Linked DNA regions of Homo sapiens. The protein of the gene in region 1 interacts with the protein of each later gene in a biochemical or structural test. Each region holds a gene or a part of one and is shown on either strand. Other genes may lie near its edges. The genes, in order: MMP2 and PAK4.

Evidence for each region.
Region 2: the proteins of MMP2 (region 1) and PAK4 form a complex in vitro, tested with the Homo sapiens proteins (one study listed by BioGRID).

What each region holds. Positions count from the first base shown.
Region 1 is NC_000016.10:55,485,554-55,489,363, forward strand, and holds part of MMP2 (72 kDa type IV collagenase isoform 1 preproprotein), read left to right. Parts: intron 1-50; coding exon 51-224; intron 225-2,989; coding exon 2,990-3,163; intron 3,164-3,810.
Region 2 is NC_000019.10:39,170,767-39,174,576, forward strand, and holds part of PAK4 (serine/threonine-protein kinase PAK 4), read left to right. Parts: intron 1-2,151; coding exon 2,152-2,610; intron 2,611-2,809; coding exon 2,810-3,244; intron 3,245-3,810. UniProt on the Homo sapiens protein: Serine/threonine-protein kinase that plays a role in a variety of different signaling pathways including cytoskeleton regulation, cell adhesion turnover, cell migration, growth, proliferation or cell survival.

The DNA.
Region 1 (3,810 bases):
CAAAGAAGGCCTGGAGAAGTCCAACCTCCCCCTTCCATGTCACTCTTTAGTGGTCCGTGTGAAGTATGGGAACGCCGATGGGGAGTACTGCAAGTTCCCCTTCTTGTTCAATGGCAAGGAGTACAACAGCTGCACTGATACCGGCCGCAGCGATGGCTTCCTCTGGTGCTCCACCACCTACAACTTTGAGAAGGATGGCAAGTACGGCTTCTGTCCCCATGAAGGTGAGCATCCACTCTAGTCCCCAAGACTTTCCACCCCAAGCCTCCAGCTTCCCGGGCTCCCCAGTGTGCTCTTCCCTCCACACTCTCCAGGACTGGCTGCCACTGCCAGTTAATGAGCATCCCTCCAACGTCCTTCACTCAGTTCCCCCCCATCCTGATCTGAGCCATTGCTGTTTCTCTCCCACCAGTACCATGATGAACGTAGTACTCTAATTAAATCAAGTTGATTTTTTTTAAGTTTCACCATTAGCAATCATTTAGGAAGTCACAGATTTGATTTGCTAATTATTTATTTCTAATATATATTGGAGTGAACTTAGAACTATTACAATGCCCAGTGGTTCTCTCTAGAACCAGTCTTTACACTTCAGTCAAGATTGATACTTCAAGGGCATGAGGAAAGGCTTGCTGGTAGCTGGAAACCTAGCAGTGTGATAGGGAGGCAGGACTCAGACCAGGGCTGGACTCAACCTGGTTTGCGTACTCCAACTGAGGAATTTCAGCTATTGCTCCTGCCTTGGTCCTGATGCTGCCTCTGCTAATGCGTGTGTGTGTGTGTGTGTGTGTGCCTGTGTGTGTGTGTGTGTGTGTGTGTGTGTGTGTGTGTGTGTGTCTGGGCACGGGGGCTATACTATCTGCCTCTCTTGGGCACTGTCTTTTTCTGCCTCCTGTCTAGCTTGTGTCTGCATCTCTGTGTCTTGATAAAGACTTTAGGCTTGACTCAGTATTTGTGTTTGTGTGCTTGTCAGTGCCTGAGATGCAACATTTCAGAGATTTTGAAGCCACATGGGGGAAATCTTTTAAAATGGGGTACAGATATTGACATACACACTCAATCCTTTTTAAAAATATCCTTGACACACTTAATAGTCATAAATCACAAAAAGACAATGTAACTTCATACTCTATGAAGTCATCATATTTGATAATTCTGCAGATTGAAAGCCCAGAAAACCTGGCGAAAATGGAAAAAAGTCTAAAAATTTTTAACACTATCTTCTTTCCCATGTCACAAAGACTCTATAGTCTACATAGACTAAAGACTGTCTTTTTGTCTGTAATTTTATGTCTGTGAATCTCCCTAACCCCACTGTAACTGAAAACTAAGCACCAACCATCTTGACAGAATGAAAGAAACAAAGAGCTAGTTAATTCCCTTCCTGTTTATGCTTTTACTACCAGAGCTAAACTTTATATTAAGTAAGAGTTTAAGCCATTCACCATTAATAAGTCAGACATTTTGAAATAAAAATATTTTTTGTATCTTGCGTTTCCCGGTAGGGATTACATGTGGCGTTAACCCTTCCCTGTGTCACCCCTCTGATAGGAACAGAAAGCTTTGGTGATAGTTAGATGTGGAAACAGCTGTATTTCATAAATTTGGGAAGGGTTATTCCCTGCATTGGACATTAGCCATTTACTTTGTGCTTAGCCAGATGCAAGTACGCACAACACGCACGTGTCTGGGTCTCGAGGCAGAGATTGTTGTTACTCAGCCCCTGCTGATGGCTGAGTCAGTGTCTGATTCTTGCCATCCTTGTCAGGGGAATTTGGGAGGAGACAGGGGCTTCCTGGGTGGTAGAAATGAGAGGTCAGAGGCAGGGGGCTGGCATTGGTCGAAGTTAACGCTTTGCCTTTCTCAACTCTGAGGCCACTAAGGTATCTGGACTCAGTCTTGCCTTTTCTCTAGGTGCCATTGTTTCTGGCATTGCAGGACAAGGTCTTTTGGTAGAGAGGGGAGTGGTGAGGATACAGGGCCTCGAGTTCTGTGGTGGGAGGCCAGGGACTGGGCTCCATTCCGGCCATGGTGGAGTTAACGGGGGCTGGTGAGGTCACCTCTGGCGCCGTTGTGCACAGATGGTCCTTGTTATGGACTTGTGGTTTTGCTGGTTGGCAATTCCAGAGACACCATTTTTTAGCTTTGGGTGGATGAGGGGAGGATGGGGAGAATCCAAGACAGACAGGCCAGGCTCTGAACCCCACTCCCTCCCCCAACTCTCCATTTATGGCCCCTGTCTTGAAGATGTCAAAGTAGGAGCCCAGAGTGTTTAGTAAAAGGGACCTGAAGGCACCACCTCCCTCTCCCTCCCTCCTCCTCTTCATTCTTTCTCTCCTTCCTACAGAGACTGCAACAAGGCCATCCAGGAAGGGGCCTGGGGTTGACAGGAGGTAAAGCAAGCTTTCTGTGTATGCGTGTGCACGCACACACACATATATGAGAGTGACAGACTAAGCAAGAGAGATTGAGATTAGTGTGTTTTGTAGTTTTTAGTTACAACCTTCATTCACTTCTTTCATTTCTGTGACCATGAGCAGTTTGAGAACCATCTTTGTCCTAGCCTTGATTTCTCCACCTATCAAATGGAGAGAGATTCTCGTGGTCCTGCCTGCCATGACTGATATATTCATGTCATACATCATTATTACATGAAATTTGCATGGTACAGGTGTGGACCAGGCAGAATGGACAGTGCCCTTGGGGCTGAGGCAGGGTTCTAGAAGCCCTTGCTGTGTGCCAGGTGTCAATCATTTTGTTGTTGGGTGGTCCACAAGGTCCCACGGGAGGGATTGGGATAACCAGGGAAGCAGGGGTTCTCTCTGGGAGCTCAGAGAAGCAGCTCCTTACCAACCAGTAGAGATGTTTTCTTAATATTTTAACAATGCATCAACTTCACTGGTGTGAACCGGCAGGTGGGCAGCCAGCCAGCCCTGTGCCCATGGAAGCATGTCTCATTCACATCCTTCCCTCTCTCCCCCACCCTTAGCCCTGTTCACCATGGGCGGCAACGCTGAAGGACAGCCCTGCAAGTTTCCATTCCGCTTCCAGGGCACATCCTATGACAGCTGCACCACTGAGGGCCGCACGGATGGCTACCGCTGGTGCGGCACCACTGAGGACTACGACCGCGACAAGAAGTATGGCTTCTGCCCTGAGACCGGTGGGTGCCACTCCCTCTCCCTCCCTCAGGGCCCAGCACCTGCTGTCTGACAAAAAAAAAACCCATAAGACTCCGAGTGCCCACCTCCTTTCCCCAAGACAGGGGTGCTAAGACATCTGTGCGAATGACATCCACACCAAGATGTCCGTGTAGCTAGTCAGGATACTTGTCACCTGGTATGGCCTGGGCACTGAAATCAGAACAGACATTGGGCATCAACAGTTGAATTGGTGACACTTAAATGTCAGGCCTGCTCAGGATCCTCTGACCGACCTGCATCCCTTTTCTCTCAGGCTCTCTGGCAGAGACTTCTCTCTCCTCCTCTCTGACCCTGCAATCTCTCTTCCCTGCCTTTCCTGGTCTGTATCTCCACCTTTTAGTCTGTTTTTTATTAAGAGCTCCGTGCTTTCCTCCCTGTCTCCTTCCTGCCCTCCTCTCTATCCCTCCCTCCTTTCCTTCTTCCCTTCCTCCAACAGGAATTTACTGAGCGCCTGCTTTGTGCAGCATACACAGAGGTTGGTCTCTGCAAAGCCCTGCCCAAGGGGGCTCACAGCTGAGGGGCATGTGCTGGTGCCATCAGCTTCATCCAACTCCCTTTGCCCCTAGCCCATCTGCCCCCTTCCATGGGAGGCTCATTAGAACTCTGG
Region 2 (3,810 bases), on another chromosome or scaffold:
GGTCCGTGTGGTCCTTGCAGGGTGCTTTTGAATGCTTTGACTTCTTTGCCTCCACTGAGAAAGTGACAGACTTCACTTCCAAAGCCGTTTCTGGCATCTGGTGACAGACCAGCTGGAGGCGAGTGGCAGCTGCCTCCACGGGCAGGGCACTGGCTCTTCTGGGCCACAGGCCGCACCCGACCCACCTCAGCTCCACGCCCTGCCTGGCTCTGTGGCCACTTGCATGTAGGCTTTGCCCCCACCAAGGTGTCTCCAAAAACCCAGCCCCTGCCTGGCTTGCCAGATGTGAGGCCTGCCTGTGACTGTCCCAGCAGGAGGCAGGGCACTTGAATTCACACATGGGGCCTTGTGGCCAGCACTGTCCTGGGGCCCCATAGGCACTTGTGTTTGCTGCCCTTGACCGGGCCTCAGGCCTCCCAGGACCTTCTCGACTCCCTGTTGGTTTTTTTTTTTTTTTTTTTGAGAGACATTCCTGCTCTGTCTCCCTGGCTGGAGTGCAGTGGCGCCACCTCGGCTCATGCAACCTTCGCCTCCTGGGTTCAAGCGATTTTCCTGCCTCAGCCTCCCGCGTAGCTGGGATTACAGGCGCCCACCACTATGCCCATCTAATTTTTGTATTTTTAGTAGAGACGGGTTTTCGCCATTTTGGCCAGGCTGGTCTCAAACTCCTGACCTCAGGTGATCCTCAGCCTCCCGAGGTGCTGGGATTATAGGCGTGAGCCACTGCTTCTTGCCTCAACGCCCTGTTCTAACAGCAAAGTCTGGCCTTGTGTCCACCTTGACTTCCTGGGGCCCCTGGGCAAGGCCCGGCTTCAGGCAGACAGCCACGGCCAGGAGAGACAGGGCAGCGGCAGACCACGGATTTTGTGGGATCAGTGTTTTCTACACGTTACAGGCAGGCCTCTGGCTGGAGGATGCCTGGCAGCCCCAGGCAGGGTCCGGGTTTCGTGGGATCAGTGTTTTCCACACATTAGAGGCAGGCCTCCGGCTGGAGGACATCTGGCAGCCCCGGGCAGGGTCCTTGTCAGCAGGGCCCACGTTCTCAGCTCACTGTGGCCTTTGCACAGACACCTCACTCACTACGTGGTTTAGCAAAAGTTCACTGAGCCCCTGCTGTGCGCCAGATGCTGGTCTAGGTGCTGAGATGGAGCAGGACCCGAAGCAGACAGGAAAAAACAATCCCTGCCCAGAGCATGCACTAGGCAGAGCCGGGAGCAGACAGATGCCTGTGTGCTCTGTATCAGCTGCTGTTAGGTGCTCTAGGTAGAATGCAGGCAGGGCAGGGGCCGGGGAGGGCAGGGGCTGGCATTTTAGATGATGGGAGGCCAGCAGAAGCCTCACTGAGAAGCTGAGTTTTGAGCAAAGACCTGAAGGAGTGGAGGGAGGGAGCCACAGGGACCCTGAGAGCTGATGTTCCAGGCAGAGGGAGCCGCCAGCGGAGAGGCCCTGGGCGCAGGGGGGCGGGGGTGGGGGAGACACCCGTGTGTCTGGAAATGGAACGGGGGCAGAGGGGGCCTGCAGGACACGACTCAGACCACAGAGGGTGGGGACCGGGTGACTCGGGATGCACTGGATGCTCTGCCTGGTCCCCATCTGCATTTGCATTTGCCACCCGGCTCCTGGGACCCCCTTGCCCTCTACTTTGGGACCAGGCCTTTCTGACTCTCCCTGTCCCCCACTCCTTGTTGTTCATGGGAGCAGAGAGTGTGGTTTTGGGGCTAAGGAACACTGGCGCCCACATGGGAGGAAGTGCCAGGCCAGGCCCTGGCCCCAGCGCCCTGTCATTTGCAGCCCTCGGGGCTGATTATGGGGTGGGTCAATTTCTGCCCTTCCTCCCCCAAACCCCTCAGGGCAGGACTATTCCACCAGTGTGAGGAACAGGAGAAAAACAAGGGGGGCCTCTCCAGGGTCCCACCGAGCCCAGGGGGCAGCAGCCTGGCCATGGCGATCACTCCTCTGGCCCCTGCAGCTGTGTCCCCAGGGAGGGGAGGGGCTGCACTGCCCATGCCATTGTCACTCCATGGCATCTCTTCATTGCGTCTCTGTCTTGTCTCTGTGTGTGTCGTGCTGTCCTGTCCCTGCGTGTCGGATGCACGTCCTGTGTGCCCCACTCCTTGCTGGGCCCCCACCCACCATTGCCTGGGACCCCAGACCATCGTGCGGGGCAGCAAAGGTGCCAAAGATGGGGCCCTCACGCTGCTGCTGGACGAGTTTGAGAACATGTCGGTGACACGCTCCAACTCCCTGCGGAGAGACAGCCCGCCGCCGCCCGCCCGTGCCCGCCAGGAAAATGGGATGCCAGAGGAGCCGGCCACCACGGCCAGAGGGGGCCCAGGGAAGGCAGGCAGCCGAGGCCGGTTCGCCGGTCACAGCGAGGCGGGTGGCGGCAGTGGTGACAGGCGACGGGCGGGGCCAGAGAAGAGGCCCAAGTCTTCCAGGGAGGGCTCAGGGGGTCCCCAGGAGTCCTCCCGGGACAAACGCCCCCTCTCCGGGCCTGATGTCGGCACCCCCCAGCCTGCTGGTCTGGCCAGTGGGGCGAAACTGGCAGCTGGCCGGCCCTTTAACACCTACCCGAGGGCTGACACGGACCACCCATCCCGGGGTGCCCAGGTAACCCATCCCCCGCCCCAGGGCCCCCACTGTCCCCTGCCCGTTGCTCCTCTGTCCCCACCTTCCAGCCCCGCCCCACCACCGTGCATCTCATCCTGACCACCCATGTGTCTGTCCCATCGCTGGGTCTCTCTCCTGCTTAGGGAGCAGAGCTGCTCCCTGGCACCCATCACTGACAGCTACCTCTCTTCTGTTTCAGGGGGAGCCTCATGACGTGGCCCCTAACGGGCCATCAGCGGGGGGCCTGGCCATCCCCCAGTCCTCCTCCTCCTCCTCCCGGCCTCCCACCCGAGCCCGAGGTGCCCCCAGCCCTGGAGTGCTGGGACCCCACGCCTCAGAGCCCCAGCTGGCCCCTCCAGCCTGCACCCCCGCCGCCCCTGCTGTTCCTGGGCCCCCTGGCCCCCGCTCACCACAGCGGGAGCCACAGCGAGTATCCCATGAGCAGTTCCGGGCTGCCCTGCAGCTGGTGGTGGACCCAGGCGACCCCCGCTCCTACCTGGACAACTTCATCAAGATTGGCGAGGGCTCCACGGGCATCGTGTGCATCGCCACCGTGCGCAGCTCGGGCAAGCTGGTGGCCGTCAAGAAGATGGACCTGCGCAAGCAGCAGAGGCGCGAGCTGCTCTTCAACGAGGTGCGGGCGCTGCTGCCCTGCCGCCCTGCTGGTCCTCCCACCCCTCCCTCCCACCCTCCCTCCCCTCCTCCCTCCTCTCCCTGCACTCCTCCGTGCTGGGCCAGGCTCCCCTCCTCCCCTCACTCTTCTCCCTCCCCAGGCCGTCTCGTCCGCCCCAGCTGGGTCCCTGCCTCTGTCCTCACAGCACCCTCACCCACATCTCTGTCCCTGAGCCCCAGACCCAGGGTTCCTCGGGCCACTGACCCCCGACCCAGTGTCTTCCAGGCCCCTCGCACCCACTGAGGCCCGCCTGGGCTCCAGGGTACAGTGTCCTCCAGACCTGCCCCTCCTGGGTTCCCTGTGCCCCGCCCTGGCCTCCACTCCTGGGTGTCCCTCGGCACAGCCCACACAACCACCAAGAGTATGTTTCTGACGTTCAGGCCCACCCCCTCCCCGTCCCTCCTTAGAGACCCTGGCAGTGCCCCGTAGCACCCTGACGATAGGAAGCCCAGGTCCCTTTGCCGGGTGTGTGAGGCCCCTCTCGACCCCGTTGCCCATCACAGTGCCGGGCTGCACCATGGAGCTCC